3 linked regions of the Homo sapiens genome follow. The protein of the gene in region 1 interacts with the protein of each later gene in a pairwise test. Each region holds a gene or a part of one and is shown in the gene's direction. Other genes may lie near its edges.

Region 1 (7,112 bases):
CCTTGGGAATGATGTGTGTCCTACTGAACACACCCTCTTACCCAGGGGAGCAGTTTTGATTTTAGAACTAGTGGAGGATCAGCTGATAATTTGGCCTCCTTCCCCACTGACTATCAGGCAGTGGGGTGAAGGGGTATGTAGATGGAGCAGTGTGTCTCTGGTTTGATGAGGATCTTTGGGTGGCACCAGGCCTACCACTTCCTCCTTGACTGGCAGGAGCTGGGGGAAGGGAGGGAGGGTAGACAGGGGCCTTCCAGTCTCCTGCACCTCCAGCTGATATTCAGGGCAGTCCTGGAGCCCAGAGTGAGACTCTTGCCCACTGAGAATCAATGAGCTTCAGGTTTTGCCTCCTCTGGAGAGGGACAACCACCTTCTCCTTAGTGGAGGAAAAGTTAAGAACAGCTCCAGTCCAAAAACCTGCTGGCTGGCTAGGATCATTAGCTTTGTCCTGACCCCTGTGTGCTACTGGTCTCCCCAGGCTAGGATTTGTGGGTAGGGAGGGGAGGATGATTTAATGATGTGCAGAGCACTTGACTCAGAACCACGCAGGCTTGGATCCGTACTGCTCCCCATCTGGGTGACTTTAAGCAAGTCACTGTCCATCTTCAGTTTCTCATCTATAAACCAGGGGGTTGATCACCAAGCTGTCCTACAAAACTAAAGAATAAATTCTGTACCTCAAGTAGGTAAAATTGGTCTATGATGCAGCCTCTCCTTTCCCTTAACTGGGCCTCTGTCTCCTTTGATGCCCACACCCAACCCCTACAGCCCCTTCTTGCTCTCAGCAGGTGACACAGCTAATCCAAAGATTCCCACCTTTTAAAATTTCCAGTGTTCCTCCATGATAGTAGTTATGCTTTTCTAGTAACCCACTAGAATACATTTGGTAACTCTTAAAAGGAGCTGTGTCTTTTTTTTTTTTTTTTTAAGACAGAGTCTTGCTCTGTCACCCAGGTTGGAGTATAGTGGTGCAATCTCAGCTCACTGCAACCTCCACCTCCCAGGTTCAAGTGATTCTCCTGCCTCAGCCTCCCAAGTAGCTGGAATCACAGGTGCCCACCACCACGCCCAGCTAATTTTTGTATTTTTAGTAGAGCCGGGGTTTTGCCATGTTGGCCAGGCTGGTCTTGAACTCCTGACCTCAGGTGATCCACCTGCCTTGGCCTCCCAAAGTGCTGGGATTACAGGCGTGAGCTACTGCACCTGGCTGGATCTGTGTCTTTTAAAAGGATCACTTGGAACCTAGATTCATTTAAAGACCTTGCTGGGCAAGGTGGCTCACATCTGTAATCCCAGCACTTTGGGAGGCCATGGCAAGAGAATCACTTGAGTCCAGGAGTTTGAGACCAGCCCTGGCAGCATAGCAAGACCCCAACTCTACAAAAAATGAAAAAAATTAGGCATGATGGCTCCTGCCTATAGTTCCTGCTACTCTGGAGGCTGAGGTGGAAGGATCGCTTGAGCCCGAGAGGTCAAGGCTTCAGTGAGCCATGGTTATACCACTGCATTCCAGCCTGGGCAATAGAGTGAGATTCTTTCTTAAAAAAAAAAAGTCAATTTAGGAGAGAATTCTTTCTGAAATCATTGCTGGGTGCTTTTATGGATTCCCAAACCCTGGGGATCCTGAAGGCTGGAAACTACAGAATCAGTTCTTGCTGACTGTTGCCAACATGGACCTGACACCCACACTTGAGTTTTTAGGATCCCCAATCCCCACACTTGAGTTTTAGAGGATCCCCCAAGTCCTGAGAGGAGAACTACTCCCCTACATGCCTCCAGAGGAAAGAGTGAATAGATGAAGCATCTCAAAGGTCAGTGACTGCCAACTCAGAGGCCAGAGGCTCCCTGGGTTTGTGGAGACTGTGGGAGTCCTCTCTGAGGAAACCCAAATGGCAACTTGTGAAAAATACACCTGGACCCCACCCCTGGAAACTCTGAGTCAGTAGGTCTGGGCTGGGCGGGCATGTTTCAGTTTCACCAGTTCTCTGGGTGATTGTGGTGCTCAGCCAGGGCCAGTGCACTGTAGAGATCAAGAGCAGGGCTTTGGAGTCAGACCTTGGGCAAGACGCTTCCTCTCTCTGAGCCTTGATTTCCTCATCTCTAAAATGAGGATAATGAGAGTCCCCTGATCCAGGGCTGAGGACTGATGGAGATCTGCAAGTGAGCTCCTGCTCACAACTCCTCTGTCACTGCCATTTCCTTTGCAGCATGACCCCTCCCCTAGTCACACCCTCTCTCCACCCCCAACCCCTACCGCACCCAGGCACAGGAAGCTGACAGTCTGAGGTCGGCCCAGCTCTCTGGAGAGAGGCCCTGAGTGTCTGGGCATTTAATTCTTCCTTGTCCTACTATCTGACAGCACGCGGGGGTCAGAGTCTCTGCCCTGGGTTCTTCAGGATCCAATGGCAAAAGTGCAGGTGAGGTGCAGGTCTTAGGGACAGTACAGGGCGACAGAACTAAGCTCAAATAACTGTGCTGTTATGTGGCAGGTTCTGTCCTGGGTCGGGGAGGGCATTCATAGGTCCTCTCCTAAGACTCCCTTTTTAGAGAGATGAAAACTGAAGCCCAGTAAGGTTAATATGCTCACTGGGATTTAGTCAATCTCTGTCTGGCTTTTGTATTTTGTCTGCTTCTTCCCATGAAGTGTTTAAGTTCATTCAAGAGATACTTAATGAGCATCCATTAGGTGCCAGGCCCCGTGATACCACAGTGAAAAAAACGCAAATGTTTCTACCCTTGTGGTGCTGACATTCTAGTCAGAGGAGGCAGATAATAAACTAAATGAAATGTACAATATGATGAAAGATGATACATGACATGGAAGAAAATAAAGCAGAAATGGGTAGGGATCATGGAGGTCAGGCAGGATTGGGTTACAGGTTTAAATAAGGTGATCAGGCCGGGCAGGGTAGCTCACACCTGTAATCTCAGCACTTTGGGAGGCTGAGGCGGGTGGATCGCTTCAGCCCAGGAATTCAAGACCAACCTGGGCAACATAGTGAAAGCCCGTCCCTACAAAAGATAGAAAAATTAGGCCCAGCACGGTGGCTCTTGCCTGTAATCCCAGCACTTTGGGAGGCCGAGGCGGGTGGATCACCTAAGTCAGGGGTTCGAGACCAGCCTGGCCAACATGTTGAAACCCCATCTCTACTAAAAATACAAAAATTAGCTGGATGTTGGTGGCAGGCACCTGTAATCCCAGCTACTCAGGAGGCTGAGGCAGGAGAATTGCTTGAACCCGGGAGGCAGAGGTTACAGGGAACTGAGATCACACCATTGCACTCCAGCCTGGGCACAAGAGCAAAACTACATTGCAAAAAAAAGAAAACACACACACACATATACACACAAAAATTAGCCGGGTGTGATGGCGCACGCCTACAGTTCCAGCTACTCAGGAGGCTGATATGGGAAGATCACCTGAGCCAGGGCGGTCGAGGCTGCAGTGAGCTGTGATTGTGCCACTACACTTCAGCCTGGGCAACAGAGTGAGACCCAGTCTCAAAAGATAAGGTGATCAGAGGATATTCCACCTGGTCAGGGAATATATATTCCCTGAGAAGGTGTCATCTAAGTAAAAACAGGGAGGAGGAAAGGGTTTGAGCCATGCAGTGACCTGGAGAGAAATATTCCAGGCTGCAGGAACAGTAAGTGCAAAGGCCCTTGGGCAAGAATATGCCTGACCTGCTGGAGGAACATTAAGAAGGCAGAATGGCTGGAGGCAAGTAAACAAGAGGGATGAGGTCAGAGAAGGTGCAGCAGGCCAGGTCACATGGGGCCTGGAGGCCTGTGGAAGGACTCGAACTTTTACTCTGAAAATTATGGGAAACCATTGGAGCATTTGAGTTAGACTTTAGGAGTCAGTCAGAAACATTCAGTGAATGGGGGACATTATACTATCTTTGGAGTCAAGGTTGAGATTAGAGTCATTGCTGCCCTCAAGGAATGTAGAACACCCAGAAATGCTCACACAAACAGTGAACAGCAAAAGAATATTATTATAGAGCAACTTAATAGGGCAAATTAATAACTGGGTTAATGGCACCCTTTTTCATCCCTATTGTTTTAAATTTTATCCTAAAGACAATATATTCTCCTGGTTTAAAAAAAGAAAACACACAGAAGAATATAATGTTAATGAAGAAATTCGGGGCTGCGCTGTGGTAGCTCATACTTGTAATCCCAACACTTTAGGAGGCCGAGGCAGGAGGATCTCTTGAGCCCAGGAGGGCTCTTCCTGCCTCGGCCTCCTAAAGCATTGGGATTACAGGTATGAGCCACCATGGCCTGGGCAATATAATGGGAACTCATCTCTATGAAAAAAAAGAATTTTTTTTTTTTTTTTCCAGACAGGGTCTGGATCTGTCACTCAGGCTGGAGTTCAGTGGCACGATCTCAGCTCACTGCAGCCTTGACTTCCTGGGCTCAAGCAATTCTCCCACCTCAGCCTCCTGAGTAGCTGGGACTACAGGAGTGTGCCGCCACACCCGGCTAATTTTGGTATTACAAAAAAATTTTTTAACTTAGCTGAGCATGGTGACACATGCCTGTAGTCCCAATTACTCGGGAGGTTGAAGTGGGAGGATCGCTTGAGCCTGGGAGGCGGAAGCTGCAGTGAGCAGAAATCGTGACACTGCACCCCAGCTTAGGCAACAGAGTGAGACCCCGTCTCTAAATAAATAAACAAAAATAAAAATGAATTTATTATAAAATTAAAACATGTTAGTGGTAATTTTTTTTTTGTGGGGGTGTGTGTGTGTATGTGTGTGTGTGACAGAGTCTCACTCTGCCACCCAGGCTGGAGTGCAGTGGCACTATCCTTCCTGGCTCACCTCAACCGCCACCTCCCAGGTTCAAGCAATTCTCCTGCCTCAGCCTCCCTGTAACTGGGATTACAGCCGCCTGCCATCACACCCAGCTAATTTTTGTATTTTTAGTAGAGATGAGGTTTCGCCATGCTGGCCAGGCTGGTGTTGAACTCCTGACCTCAAGTGATCCGCCCACCTGGGCCTCCCAAAGTGCTGGGATTACAGGTGTGAACCACTGCGCCTGGCCAAATTTGTTTTTTTGTTTTTGTTTTTGTTTTAATTTTTAGATGGAGTTTCACTCTTGTTGCCCAGGCTGGGGTGCAATGGCACAATCTCGGCTCACTGCAACCTCTGCCTCCTGGGTTCAACTGATTCTCCTGCCTCAGCCTCCCAAGTAGCTGGGATTATAGGCGCCTGCCACAATGCCTGGCTAATTTTTAGTATTTTTAGTAGAGACAGGGTTTCAACATGTTGGTCAGGTGGGTCTCGAACTCCTGACCTCAGGTGATCCACCTGCCTCGGCCTCCCAAAGTGCTGGGATTACAGGCGTGAGCCCCTGCACCCGGCCCAAAAAAATTTTGAAGTAAAGAAGAATATAATGTTGGCCGGGCGCGGTGGCTCATGCCTGTAACCCCAGCACTTTGGGAGGCCGAGGCGGGCGGAACACCTGAGGTCAGGAGTTTGAGACCAGCCTGGTCAACATGGCAAAACCCCGTCTCTACTAAAAATACAAAAATTAGCCAGGCATGGTGGCGGGCGCCTGTAATCTCAGCTCTTCGGGAAGCCGAGGAAGGAGAAGCACCTGAACCCGAGAGGCAGAGGTTGCGGTGAGCCGAGATCACGCCATTGCACTCCAGCCTGGGCAACAAGAGTGAAATTCTGTCTTAAAAAAAAAAAAAAGATGAAAGTTTCTCCCCTCACTCTGGAGAGGTGATCACTGTTAACAGTTTGTGAGTCTTCTAGATTCTTTCTGTATACAAATAAACAGGTTGAACCATATGAAATTTCTGACACTTGATTGTTTTGACCTACTGAAATACTAGTTTCATATAATTCGACCTAATCTTTGCACATGTATTTGACAAACATTTCATTCTGTAGCTTGCTTTTTTTACATGCCAGTGTAGTATGCATATCTTTCAATGTCTGTTCATATAAACATAACAAAGATCACCCACAACTTTTATTAAGCAGTGCACTATGCACCAGGTACTCTTCACTCAAAACAGCCTTTGGAGCAGACCCTATCATTATCCTCACAGAGGAGGAGACTAAGGTGTTGGAGAATTAAACATTTGCCCATGAGCACACAAGTGGGAAAAGTGAAATCTTTCCAGCTACATACAGTGGTTCCTGACATGGTATACCTGTTTCCTACTGGAAGAGCCTCAGTTTGTCTCCATTTTTTCATATTATAAACAATGCTTAATGAGCATTCTTGTATCTCTCCCATGAGTGTCTGTAGGTTGGATGATTAGAAATGCTGGGGTGGCCGGGCGCAGTGGCTCACGCCCTGTAATCCCAGCATTTTGGGAGGCCGAGGCGGGCAGATCTCCTGAGGTCAGGAGTTTGAGACCAGCCTGGCCAACATAGCGAAATTCCATCTCTACTAAAAATACAAAAATTAGCCGAGCATAGTGGCACGCGTCAGCAATCCCAGCTACTCAGGAGGCTGAGGCAGGAGAATCACGTGAACCTGGGAGGCGGAGGTTGCAGTGAGCCAACACCGCGCCACTGCGCTCTAGCCTGGGCGGCAGATTTGGAACGCGTCTCAAAAAAAGATAAGGACACGGGTAGTTTGAAAAGAGGCCAAGAGACAGCAGATGAGAATATATAAAACTTGAACACTTGTCACTTCAGAAGTGGTCAGTGGATGTTGGCATTATTCTCTTGAGGTGGTCACCCTGGGTTTTAAGTGCTAGGCATTGAGCCAGTGGCACCCCTTAGAGTGGGGATTGGTATTCTATGACCACAGATGTGTTAGGCAAGACTTTCCTGGAATTAGTGATAAAACCAAACTCAAATGGCTTAAGGGAGAGGGGATTTATTGGCTCACATAACCAAAAACTCCAGGGATAACTGCCCAGAGGGAAATGAGGGAAAAAAAGGAAATACTCCCTTCCTGGGATCTCCCACTTCCCAGTTTGCCAAGGAAAACTGAGCCCCAGGAGGACACTGAGGCAAAGTCTCAATACTTTCTCCCCCTCCTCTCTGAAAAGAGAATAAAATGAAGGCTTGGCACACACACCATCTCCGAGACAGTGCTAGCTCCTGCCTCCTAGGAACTGATTCCAAGGTGAACTG
Region 2 (6,538 bases), on another chromosome or scaffold:
GTAATGGTTGGCCAACTGTGGATCGCTTCAGAACTTCAGCAAACATTCCACGAGGACTTCTCGGTGCCGGGGGTGCCAGGGAGGGAAGAAGATGATTCAGAAGTTCCCCCCCACGAGGGGGAGGAGTTAGGGTTGGGGGAGGATCAGATGGTGGGAAGGGAAGAGAATGTAGTCAGAAAACAAAGCAAGCTTTGTCCTATTGGCTTCTTTGTTCTTATCTTGTTATTTAACCTATTTTGAATTTCAAATAACATTAGAAGGGCAGTATTGAGATTTCTATGCTTGGAGGTGGCAGCAATGGTTTTAAAAAAGGAAGAAGGCTGAGCCGCAGACATAGGTGTTCTTAAGGATCATTATTGACTTTTATCAGCTGAGGTCCCAGGTCTGTGTAGGTAAGTGACTTGCCCAAGGTCACATTGTGAGGACACAGAGCCCAGCCTGCCCTCCCACTCTCAGAAGGGGCCAGGGTGATGTTTTGGCATGCAGGTTATCATGGAGATCTGTGATTCAGCTGGCATTGATTTGGCACTTGTTAAGTGCAGAGCCCAAGCTAGATGCCCAAGGGAGAAAGGCAGGAAAATCCAGGCGGCCTCCCCACCCTCCAAGTGCATTGCCGATCTCGGGAGGCGAGACTGGGCTCCACAAGCCAGTCAAGGGCTTATGTGAGTCAGAGGCTCTGAGTTCAAGTCTCAACTAGCTCTGTGGATCTGACCTCTAGCCAGCTTTGCCCTCAGTGGGCCACAGGAAAAGCATAGGATCACAGGTGCGCTCTAGCCTGGACTTTGTATGACACTAGAAGGAAAGGGGTCAGAACAAGAGATGCTTAGAGAAGCTGGAGCAGGGGAGGATGTGTGTGTGTGTATGGTGGGGGTGGGGAATCAGGAAGGAGAGATGCACAAGAAATAGCTTTTGGCACCAGCTGAGCTTTTTCCAAAGCTTGCTCCCTGACAGCAAGGCTCCTACGTCAGTTTGACAAACTGTGATAAAGTCTTTTCCTGCGGGCCTTCTCAGAGACTTGAATATGCTCACGCATGGAGGAGGCAGCTGGAAAAAGCCACTTTTGACCACAGGATCCTTATTCCAGGAAGCTCCTTGAAGGTGGATGGTTCAGAGGAACCTCTGCTCTGGCTGTTTACCCAGCTTCACAAAGCTTTGGTGAGGTGTCTGCTCCCTCCTGGCTTCGCTGCGTGGCAGAGATTTTAATGCACAGAGAAGGGAGGTGACTTACTCAGTTACTCAGCAGGAGGCAGTGTAGCCTGGGGCTCCAGGGCTCTGGGATGTGGGGCCTGTTTCACCATTTCTTACTACGTAGCCTCAGGCAAGTTACGTCACTTTGTGCCTCAGTTTCCCCTCTCTAATCTCATGCTGCCCTCAGGAGTAATGTTTTTGTTGTTGTTGTTGTTTGTGAGACGGAGTCTCGCTCTGTCGCACAGGCTGGAGTGCAGTGGCGCAATCTCGGCTCACTGCAACCTCTGCCTCCCGGGTTCAAGCAATTCTCCTGCCTCAGGCTCCTGAGTAGCTGGGATTACAGGCGCCCGCCACTACGCCCAGCTAATTTTTTGTATTTCTGGTAGAGACGGGGTTTCACCATGTTGGCCAGGCTGGTCTCTAATTCCTGACCTCGTGATCCACCCGCCTTGGCCTCCCAAAGTGCTGGGAATACAGGCGTGAGCCACCGCGCCCAGCCCCTCAGGAGTATTGTATGGGTTTAAACGATGAGGCGGGTGAGGTCTTGGCACTTAGTAAGTGCTTCATAAGTGGGCCCTGCAGAATAAGTGCTTTCTTTTTTTTTTCCTTTTTTTTTTTTTTTTTTTTGAGACAAGGTCTTGCTCTGTCTCCCAGACTGGAGTGCAGTGACACAATCATGGCTCATTGCAGCCTTGACCTCCTAGGCTCAAAGGATCCTCCCTTCTTAGCCTCCTGAGTAGCTAGGACCACAGGCATACACCACCACACCCAACTAATTTTTTTAAAATTTTTTTGTAAAAACCAGGTCTCATTATGTTGCTCAGACTTAGAATGAGTGAATGAGTGCTTCTATTTTTTCCTGATACATGGCTTAAGTGTATAGCTCAATGAATTATTTGTCCCCTATTCAGTCAGTACCTGCTCAGAGGCTGCCATCATTCTGATTGCTAATAGCATCAATTGGTTTTGCCTGTTACTGAACTTCCTTGTTTTTTTTTTTTTTTTTTTTTTTTTTTTTGAGACGGAATGTTGCTCTTGTTGCCGAGGCTGGAGTGCCGTGATGTGATCTTGGCTCACTGCAACCTCTGCCTCCAAGGTTCAAGTGATTCTCCTGCCACAGCTTCCTGGGTAGCTGGGATTACAGGTGCGCACCACCACGTCCGGCTAAGTTTTGTATTTTTAGTAGAGACGGGGTTTCTCTATGTTGGCCAGGCTGGTCTCGAACTCCTGACCTCAGGTGAGCCACCCACCTCAACCTCCCGAAGTGCTGGGATTACCAGCATGAGCCACCGCACCCGGCTGTGTTCTTGAACTTTCTATACACAGACTCACTTGGGTCCCCGTGTGCCTAGCTTCTGCCCCGCGTCAGTTGGAGGCCTCCATCCGTGTAGTTGGGTGTGATCATCTATCCTCTTCAGCTGCTAATGTTTGGACCCCGGATTTCCTCCTCTGTCGCGGGCCTGCCGTCACCGCCCATTCTGTCTTCCTTCCAGGTCTCCACCTCTGGGCAGGAGAGTTGCCGACCACCTCGGGGGTGCTTTCTCTGCGCTTGAACATCTATAGCTGCTTCTGAGGGGCTGGGAGCCGGGCCCCTGGGAGAGACGAGCCATGAACCCCCCACAGCCTCTGCATTTGGGGACCTCACCTTAGGAGAGTGCCATTTACAGCTTCCGCCAGGGCAAAGGAGCTGAGCAGCCATCCCAAGCCCAGCCCACCTCCCTCCCCCGGCCCCTGGTAGGCATGGACTAGCAGCTGTGAGCAGCCAGAGCTGATGCCCGGCCCCCAGGGGGGCAGAGGCGCCGCCACCATGAGCCTGGGCAAGCTCTCGCCTGTGGGCTGGGTGTCCAGTTCACAGGGAAAGAGGCGGCTGACTGCAGACATGATCAGCCACCCACTCGGGGACTTCCGCCACACCATGCATGTGGGCCGTGGCGGGGATGTCTTCGGGGACACGTCCTTCCTCAGCAACCACGGTGGCAGCTCCGGGAGCACCCATCGCTCACCCCGCAGCTTCCTGGCCAAGAAGCTGCAGCTGGTGCGGAGGGTGGGGGCGCCCCCCCGGAGGATGGCATCTCCCCCTGCACCCTCCCCGGCTCCACCGGCCATCTCCCCCATCATCAAGAACGCCATCTCCCTGCCCCAGCTCAACCAGGCCGCCTACGACAGCCTCGTGGTTGGCAAGCTCAGCTTCGACAGCAGCCCCACCAGCTCCACGGACGGCCACTCCAGCTACGGTGAGGGCCTGGGCCATCTTGGCCCACTTTTCAGAGGCTGAGGCTGAGGCCCAGAGGGGTTCAGTGGCTCCTCCAAGCTCCAAGTGAGCTCCAAGTGACCACAGAGGTCAGGCCCAGACCCCACATCATGGATGGGGAGGGGGTGCAGTGGTGGGAACAAGCTGACTCCCCAAAACACCTGAGGTTGAGAGTGAGGAGGTGGAGTTTGAATTCTAGCTGCCCCTCACTTGCTGTGTGACCTGGGCAAGCACATCCCCCTCTCTGGGCCTTAGCTGAACCAGTCACCCACCCATTCTTGCCCCCTTCAACCAAAGCCTTCCCCTCATGTCGGAATGATATCATGGAGAGGTGAAGGGCCTGGGCTCTAGATTCCAATCCAGTTCTGCCTGAATTTCAGGAAGTCAGTTGACCTCTATAAGTTCAAGTCCTCGCCTGGATAATGAGTCTCTCGGGGTCATTGCTAAGATTCAGTGCCAGGAGAGGCGCAGGGGGGCTGATACTTAGTAGGTGCTCAGGACACTGGAGCTGTTGTTATCTGAACTTGGTTTCCTGTAACTCGACAAATTTGGGAAACCACTCACAGGAACCGCAAGCCACAGGCCTTCCTGCCCAGCCAGAAGTGCCACCTTGGCCGTTCGGTCAGAGCTCACCTGAGAACCATGGGCCCCTGCTGCCACCTGGTGGCCACTCCCTGCCTTGCGGGAGTGGCTCTAACACCCCTGCCCCAGGCGGCTGCTCAGAACCGCACTGAGGACTGGTCCACAGAAACCCGATTCTGTCTCAGGTCTGTAGTCCTGGAAGCAGGGGCTGGACATGTCTGTCCTTCATTTCTATACAGTCAGACCCTGATTGCTGGTCCCATCCTGTGTCCACAAACCAGCTCACGTGCTATGGGTTCACCTGCAGCCATCGGCCAGCGTCATGGCAGGGAGCCGGTGGCCATGGCTGAGGTCACAGTTGGGACTGAGAGGAGATTTGAGCTCCAGACTTGATTCCACCTCGTCAGACTTCTATGGCCTTGGGCTAGCTCCTTCGCCCCATCCCAAACTGAGCCTCACTTTCCCCATCTGCATAATGGAAATGAGGATAATGATGATTTTCAGCTTTCGGGGTAGACAGGAAGATCACACAGGTGACCATGGAGTGTATTCTATTGGAAAGATGGGAGAAACCGAGGCCAGAGAGGGGAGGGACTAGCCAGAGGCCACACAGCAAGCCAGGACTGGTCCTGTCTCCCCTCCTGAATTCCTGGTGAGGGACCCCAGCTCTGAGCCCACTGCCCATTTCTCTTCTAGGCCTGGACTCTGGGTTCTGCACCATCTCCCGCCTGCCCCGCTCGGAAAAGCCGCATGACCGAGACCGGGATGGTTCCTTCCCCTCTGAGCCCGGGCTTCGCCGCTCTGACTCTCTCTTGTCCTTCCGCCTGGACCTCGACCTTGGGCCCTCACTCCTCAGCGAGCTGCTAGGGGTCATGAGCCTCCCAGAAGCCCCTGCAGCTGAGACTCCAGCCCCCGCTGCAAACCCCCCAGCCCCTACTGCAAACCCCACGGGTCCTGCTGCAAACCCCCCAGCCACTACTGCAAACCCCCCAGCGCCTGCTGCAAACCCCTCAGCACCTGCCGCAACCCCCACGGGTCCTGCTGCAAATCCCCCAGCCCCTGCCGCAAGCTCCACACCCCATGGACACTGTCCCAATGGGGTAACAGCTGGGTTGGGCCCAGTGGCTGAGGTGAAGTCCAGCCCAGTGGGAGGGGGTCCCCGAGGACCTGCTGGCCCTGCCCTCGGCAGGCACTGGGGAGCAGGCTGGGATGGCGGCCACCACTACCCAGAGATGGATGCGCGGCAGGAGCGGGTGGAGGTGCTGCCCCAAGCCCGGGCCTCCTGGGAGAGCCTGGACGAAGAGTGGAGGGCGCCCCAGGCAGGCAGCAGGACCCCAGTGCCCAGCACAGTGCAAGCAAACACCTTTGAATTTGCGGATGCTGAGGAGGATGATGAGGTCAAGGTGTGAGGGGCTGGGGCACGGTCCCAGGGCCCCACCTAGGTGCAGAGCCGGCCCCTCACCTAACAGCTGGTTCCTACCAGACCGGAGAGGGGAGAAGTCATGTTGCCCCTAAACCCCTCCCCACCTCTGCAGGACAGACATGGGAGGGAGGACAGGGAAGGCCAGGCTTGCTCTGGGACTTTTATGCTCCCAGAGGCCCTGCCAAACTGACCACCTCCCCCGACTGCCACTCTGGACCTAATAGCTGTTCCTTAGGCCCCACTCCATGCCACCCCCACCAGCTGGAGGACCCAGCCTCACAGTGTGTCCTTTGTGCCAGACCAAGCGGCCCGTGGGGGGTGGGGGGCAGGGAGTGTACCACACAGGGCCATTGTCTCACCTCCCAAAGGGACCGCCTGCCCCCAGCTCATCCCAGAGCGTCCCTGCTGCAACCCTGACAGCCGTCTCCCAGGCCGCTTCCCCAACATCCCCGCCCCAGCCTCCCTCTTACCCCAGAAAGGTCAGGTATGACCTCCCGGGGAGGAATCCCACCTGCCTGTATACCCCAGACTTGCCTCTGGGGCCTGATTAAATAAGGCTGTTTTGATAAAAGGTGTCCTGCAAGATGCTTGGGGACCTGGGACAACAGCATCAGCTCTGTCTGCTTCAGTCCCCTCCCCTCCAGGGAGTTTAGAAAGCCAAGGATCCCCCATCAAGGCCCCCAGCAGGGAAGGGAAGTGGACGCGCCAAGGGGAGGGTAATGAGTAACCAGGCTGGAACGCCCCTGAGATAAGAGGCCCAGGTGGGAGCCCTTATCTGCAGTTCCGGGAACAGCCCCTGGCCCAGGTGCCTGGGACTCGTGTCTGCCCCATAATCCCACAGGGCAGCATGGCATTTGCTCTGGCGATAGTGGGGGCAAGTAGACAGAAGCAAGTGCGTAGGACTGTTGGGAGCATGTCTCAGCCTCCCAACATGGCAGCCGGGTGTCCTCATATCTGTTTCCTCCTCAGTATTATGAAAATGCCAGGAGCATTAAAATGCACGGAAAGAGAAATGCCCTCCTTAGGTATCGGAAGACCGGTTAAATTTAGCCACAAACAGCTAACGTGAGGTGGTGCACTCCCTGTCACTACAG
Region 3 (7,112 bases), about 95 Mb from region 1:
TTCCTGTGAGCCTCTGGTCACATTTTTGTCTACTGATCAGTGTGTAACCTTGTTTTATGTGTGTTTCTGTTTAAAGACACCTCATTTAATGTATATCGTTCATTCATTAAAAATTGAACTCACAAGTAAGAGCACTATCACTCCTGCCTGATGAAGCTTATCTAGCACAAGTATCTTCTCTGTAAGGCAACATCACAACCTTTTGGCACTTAGGGACACTAAACAACACCTCAGCACTATGTCAGGGGCCATTTTAAACAGTAACATCACCCAAGAAAAGCACAAAAATGTAGAATATGTGGCACTAAATGGACCACACAAAAGACACTTATTCCCAGTACGAGAACTGAAACAGGAAGGTAAAGCTCCTTCTTGATTGACTTCAGCTGGGAACATGCATGTTGAGTGACTCAAAAGTGTTGTCAGTCTGTGCATGTCCACGAACACTGCGAGTATTATTTTGGGGTTACAAATAAATTGTAGCAAGTAGATGACTTCACAAACGTGGAATACAGTATGTGAATAATGAAGACTGGCGGTATGTCATTTTTTCCTTCCCATCACCATTTACTAGACTTGGTTAGGTGGAGACAAGATGGATACCTGAAATGATAGAATGTCACCAGGCAAATATTTTGCAAAGGATATCAGGGCAGAAATTTTAAAATGTTGGCAAGAAAATGTTTTTTAAATGATTGCTAGGAAAGGAAGGCTTGGGGTGAGGAGAGCTGCTAGGGAGGAAGTAAAAGGATCAGTGTGAGACTAGAGTTTCTGTTGAGATTGAGGAAGAGGCATCTGGGGGTAACTGGGTTTGCAGACTGGAATAGGAGTATGTGTCCCAGGGTTGGATTTTTAAATTTAATACTAAGAAGCAGAGCAGTTCTTGTTGGGGACTAGATTCATGGGAGTGAGGGCTTGAAGTAGAGAGGAAGGGAGTCAAAATGCCAGGGTATTGGATAAGTCATCCATATGGATGACGAAAGTACTCAGATGGAAAGGAAGAGAATAAGCCAGGGCTAAGTGTTTGGGTGGTTAGCATGGGGGAAGAAGAGGAGGAGAGTTGCTTCAGCCATATGGCTCGAGCCTCGGCAGGGGAGAACTGGCCTAGGATCCATGGTGTGGTGGGAGGCAGCAACCCGTCCTGTGTCTATGGGAGGTAGAGTTGGGAACATGAGCACCCTTGGGGAAAGGCTTGAGAAGGACGAGCTAGGTATGACTGTGGGCAAGGAGGGTGAGGATGTAGGAGATTGTTTCTCAAAGCATAGCTTTCCGGTGAGCCTGAGATAGAGACTATGGGGAGAACAGAGAGAGCTTGGCTCAAGGGAGCAGAAGCTCAGAACGGTGTGCCCACAAGGAACTAGAGGCTGTAAATTACTATAGGGCTGAGCTCTTAGGATCGGCCAGATATAGCTGACTGTGAGAGAGAGGAGAGAAGCAGCCTTCTTTGCATGGGGTGGCTGTAGGGAGTGGGGGTAGCTCCTGCTTTACCTGAGAGATTGTATTTCCCAGGGATTCCAGTCTCAGCTGTATGGAGAGACTCTGTTCTCTCTGGGGGGAGTCAGCTTAGTTGTAAATTTGATGTATGTGGTATATCAATACATTCTAATTGAAAAAATGCTGATACATAAAAGAAAATATGAAAAGTCCATCATTCCCATTTTGCCCCTTCCTTTTCACTACCACTTCCTAGAAGAAATCATTATTAACATTTTGGCAAATATACCTCCGGACTTCTTTTTACTATGTGTTTACATATGTATGCATATGTGTGTATATTAATGTATGTATATAAATGCATATACTTATGTATATACACATAATACACATATGTATACATAATCATATACCCATAAATACATGTGGACCCCCACATGTCTAATTTTCTCATAAACTTAACTCATTCTGTGTTATGTGTTCTACCACTTGAATTTTAACTATATGTTTTAGAGAACTTTCCATGACAGTAACTGTACAGCTACCTCACTATTTGAGGATTAATTGCCCTGGCTCTGCACTCTGGTCTAAGTTCATCATTCAGGGTTCTGCAGGACAGACACTCCTGGAGCGGGTAGAGGTCTGGCGTGATACGTGTTTCTACTTGAACACATCTTCTTGTGTTAGTGGGAAGAAGTCTCAGGGGCTGAACCCTCTCTCTAAGAATCCAGGGCAGGGTATGATCCAACTCAGGTCTCGTAAGCCTATATGACCTTCTAAATCAGAATGTCTCTAAGTGGGGCCCTGTAGGCATATGTATGGCATGTGTTATACAGAGTACATTCTTACTAGCATTCTTAGGAGCCTGTCTCATCCAAGTAATAAACTAGGAGAGACGCTTTTCTTTCTTTCTTCCAACCCAGCTTTGGTGGAGAAAAAAAGCTTGACTTCTGTGCATATGCACCAGCTGTGGTCTGCAGCCTTCAGTGCAGGGCAGACTGTCCACTCTGGGGCCATGCTAGAGCTGAGTGTGCTGTGCTGGTGTGCCTTCCAGCTTACCCTGGGGACACATCTTGGTACAACATAGGGAGTGGAGAAAGGACCTGCAATTGTGGGATATTATGCTTTGCCCCCTATCCGTGTGGTTGTAATGTAACTGAGAATGTTGCCAGAATGCCACAGCTCAGCTCTTCCCACTTTAATAGCTTTTGTCTTTAGATTCTGGTTATTTGTTTAGTTGTTTTATTACTGTTAATGTGGGTGGTTTGATTAACATTAAGACTATATCATGCCTGGTGTCCATGTTTATTTTTGTGTATATATATATATATATGAATATTCTGAGTTAAAAAAAATAATTCAACCTATTTTACCTGTTTCAGGTTTGTGGATACCGGATAAAGCTTCACTTTGATGGGTATTCTGATTGCTATGACTTCTGGGTGAATGCAGACGCTCTGGATATCCACCCAGTTGGGTGGTGTGAGAAAACCGGCCACAAACTCCATCCTCCAAAAGGTTTTGTCACTTTTTGTTTGATATTTTAAATTCAGTAAAAACTCATTTTCTTACATGCTACATTAGAATTGTTAAGAATTCAGACTTTATGAAAATTCAGATAGGCACAAATTTAACCTTATTGTTTATGATGAAACCATGTTTATTAAAGTTAAAGAAATAAAAGCAGAATCCAGCCTAGGAAAATAAAGTATGTTCATATGCTTATTTTCATGTAAAATAACATTTGCATGATACTCAACTTTGACTACAAATAATGTTTACCTGCAAATTTCTATTATTAAATACATACATCTTTGAAAAAACTGATTTGAAAAATTAGTTTAAATTAGTTTATATAACTAAGTTTAGTGTTAACTGGTTTAAACTAATTTTTCAAATCAGTTTTTCATTATATAGAAAATCCTGAGAAATTATGCTTGACCGTATAGATCTTAATATTTAGGAGATTGGCAAGAAGACTGTAACACTAAAAATTGGCTTAGGTGGGGGGTTGAACTCATAGCAATTACTTTTCTTATATTTGAGTACTTTATATTATAGTCCCCCAGTGATTTTCCTATTTCATGTTTATATCAAAGTTCAAGAATAACAGATATCGTCTTTTTCACTGTCTGCCTAAAGTATTCCCTAATTTTTTTTTGAGACGGAGTCTTGCTGTGTCGCCCAGGTTGCAGTGCAGTGGTGTGATATTGGCTCACTGCAGCCACTGCCTAGCAGGTTCAAGTGATTCTCCTACCTCAGCCTCCCGAATAGCTGGGATTACAGGTGCCTGCCACCATGCCTGGCTGATTTTTGTGTTTTTATTAGAGACAGAGCTTCACCATGTTGGCCAGGCTGGTCTCAAACTTCTGGCCTCAAGTGATCTGCCCACCTTGGCCTCCCAAAGTGCTGGGATTACAGGTGTAAGCCACCGTGCCCGGCCATATTTAGTAATATCTTATTCCCTTCTATTTCAATCATTACATTGATTTTTGTTTATGTCAAAAATTCAGGTTACTGGGTTGATATTTTTGGCCTGTCTCAGGGCTTTAATGCATTAGCCATCCCTTTGTTTTAAGTGAAAAAATAATGGCAGAGTGGTATTTTCAGATAGCTGAAGGATTCAACAAAATAGCATAGAAAAAGTGAGGGTGAAAAAGAAAATCTGTAAGCCTTTTCACGAATTGATCTCTTATATATGGTAAATTATTAGCTGGTTTTTTCATGCTGCTTTCTGGACTTTAATGAATGTAAAATAAAGCATATTCGCAGATAAAATAAGATGCTCAATTTCCTTTTTAAAGGAAATGTTAACTTCAATGAAATTGTAAAAATTAAGGGGAGGACATTTCCCTTATTGTAATTTGCCAGCATCCTTACTTCATAAACCTTAAATTGTCCTTCTTGAAGTGATAGGCCAAAAAGATTTTACCTGTTTCATTTCTATTATTTCCACCTTTCCACTTGTTCCTATAAGTTAGTCTTCCCAAAATAGACTAGGTGAGAGAAAAATAAAGAATTTTGACTATTGTAGTTCAGTATCTATACCGCTGAGGAATTCTACCTAAATACTGGTACAAATACCCTGATAATAAGTGTCCTGGGTATAATACATATTTGTTTCCTTATTCCTTTTCTTTATATCCATTACCATTCATTCAGAATTGGAAAATAATAATACAGTTTGTTGAAAATAAACATAGTCTAAATATGCATAGTTATGAATTATGAGTTAAATTTTGTTTATTTAAAAAGTCATTTGATTGATTTTGGCATGTTAGAGATAAAAGTGGGACTGGAAAACTAAGTGTAAAATATTGTGGTATTTGAATCAATCTGTTCATATGTGCTTACTCTAGGGTATAAAGAAGAAGAATTCAATTGGCAGACCTATCTTAAGACATGTAAAGCTCAAGCTGCTCCTAAGTCATTATTTGAAAATCAGAATATAGTAAGTACATACGAAACACGTTTTCTTTCAAAGGAAGAAGTTTTTTGAGTGTCTCATAGGATCAATTACAAGTGATAACAAGGAACTATAATAAATTTTATCGCCTTGGTAAATAGAGTACTCTTATCTTAATTAAAGTTTAAAATTAGCTTAAAATCTTCATGAACAAATATGTTTTATAGCCATATTATGGTTGTCTCTTTTATTGCATAGTAGAAGACAAGATAGTACAAGATTCAGGTGAGATTTACAATTAAGATGCATAAAAAATTAAATTGGCTGAGATATTTTATTGTTATTATCACTTATATGGGAGTGCTGTTCAAATGGGATTCACATAGCCAGATGAAGGTAGCCCTGTTTCAGTTTACATGTAGGAGGTCACTGGAGACTGTGACATATCTTCACTCTAGCTTATAGCTTTGTTTACAGTAAACAAAAACAAAATCTGGATGTGCGTGTCTTTTCTACTTGACCGGTATTCCTGCTTTCCATAACATGTTCCTCCATTGGCCGACTTGATCCATGACATTTTTCTTTTCCCAAGTTCTGATCTAATTGGAAAGAATAAAGGGCAAGCCAGTGGAAAACCAAAATGCCATCTTTACAGATGGTCAGAGCTGAGTTGGAGGACGTGCATGGCTTGTATCTGCAGACAAATAAGCTTGATTCTGAGCCCTAGAATGGAAGAGATTTAATTCGCCTTTCACGCCCATCCCCCAAGCCTGGAGAACACTAGACCCTTGAGGAGCAGAGTGGAAACTGTGCACCCTGCAGCCCAGCTTTCTCTCTAGTATGATCAGTTCCTCCTTTCCAGAGTCACCAGGCTGGTAGCAGTGAGTGAGACAGTGGGGAGAAGCAGTAATGTTTCACTAACAGCATTCCCTTCAAATGGAAATAAATAAATATCAAGAGCAGGAGAAACCTCCTCACTCCAAAAATCCTTCATTTGGGAAACAGTGTTAACCAGTTGGTTTGAGAGCATCAATCTAATGGCTGAAATGTTTTCTGATTTAATCAAACACAAACCAGGTTGGATTACAGAACTGACACATTGTGTTTGTGTGCATGCGTATGTGTGTTTAGGTTAGTAATAGTGTTAATGGGCCAGCTTATTATTTTAAAACATCTTAATTGAGAGGATAGTGTAATTGCCAAAGTGTAACAGTGCATTGTCAGTTGGTATTCTCTGTCAAAACTTATCCCAGGGAGGAAGGTCAGTTGGGTGGAAAACTTAGCAGCCTGCTGTCTCTGCTCCAAGTTTCCTAATCCCTGTCTGGTTCTCTGATGATGACTTCAGTCAGGGATTTGATTAACTGCCTTGAACGGTCTTCCTAAATTCTATGCATTGCCAGCATACAACTTAATCTTGGGCTCTCCATTTCGTATCTAAGAGACAATTAATTTTTCCATTTCTAGATTACCTCAGAATACTCAAACATTTATGATCAGAACTCGGATAAATTTCAGTACTTAAATGCATAGTAAAGATTTCTGTATAGCATTAGTGCCTGTTCTATCCATTCAGACACAACTTATTCTAACATTTTCAGATACACGGCTGTCTACATTTTTGCAATGATAGTTGTATAATTATAGTAAAATGAGAGATAGCATTTATTTTGCCTAAAGTAGTTAGAATAATATCTGTATAATTGAGTCTAACAGAGGTTTTTGTTTGTTTTTTGTTTTTTGTTTTGTTTTGTTTTGTTTTTAGGGAAGGAATGACTTGTAGTGTGTTGTGATTTGCATAATTGGTATCTAGATATACTAGTCTATAATATGTAGAGATAGATAGATTAAGATATTATTCCTCACAAAAGATTGTAAGAGATTTTATATATTACTGTACCTTAAGCACTAACTCTTACAGAACTTTCATTGTTTTTGTTCCATGTTCTGAATGACTGGTTATCTGTGGATTTCTTTAAGTTACCAACTATTTTGAATAGCTTTGTACATCAACAGCCAATTCTTTTGCTGCTATTAGGAATAAAATATATCTGTAGTGTTGAGTAAAAGTTGTAATAATTTGCAGCCTTTCATATATGAAGATGACCTACTTTCGAGAGTACTCTTTTGAGAGATATTTTCGGAAGTGGGAGTGAATTTGTACTGACTCATGCACATTTTTAACTTGATTAAGTGCATATTTTGTGTGAATAATTTTCATTGTTAAGTCTGTAATCAAGAAAAGAAGGATAAAATGTGAACTATATGGTGAATA

Evidence for each region.
Region 2: the proteins of DEF6 (region 1) and CDC42EP1 interact in binary tests that used the Homo sapiens proteins (3 or more experiments, as listed by UniProt).
Region 3: the proteins of DEF6 (region 1) and L3MBTL3 interact in binary tests that used the Homo sapiens proteins (3 or more experiments, as listed by UniProt).

The regions. Positions count from the first base shown.
Region 1 is NC_000006.12:35,300,818-35,307,929, forward strand, and holds part of DEF6 (differentially expressed in FDCP 6 homolog), read left to right. Parts: intron 1-7,112.
Region 2 is NC_000022.11:37,563,391-37,569,928, forward strand, and holds the end of CDC42EP1 (cdc42 effector protein 1), read left to right. Parts: intron 1-2,681; 5' UTR 2,682-2,959; coding exon 2,960-3,422; intron 3,423-4,717; coding exon 4,718-5,430; 3' UTR 5,431-6,015; downstream 6,016-6,538. UniProt on the Homo sapiens protein: Probably involved in the organization of the actin cytoskeleton. Induced membrane extensions in fibroblasts.
Region 3 is NC_000006.12:130,063,537-130,070,648, forward strand, and holds part of L3MBTL3 (lethal(3)malignant brain tumor-like protein 3), read left to right. Parts: intron 1-2,816; coding exon 2,817-2,952; intron 2,953-4,793; coding exon 4,794-4,885; intron 4,886-7,112. UniProt on the Homo sapiens protein: Is a negative regulator of Notch target genes expression, required for RBPJ-mediated transcriptional repression. It recruits KDM1A to Notch-responsive elements and promotes KDM1A-mediated H3K4me demethylation.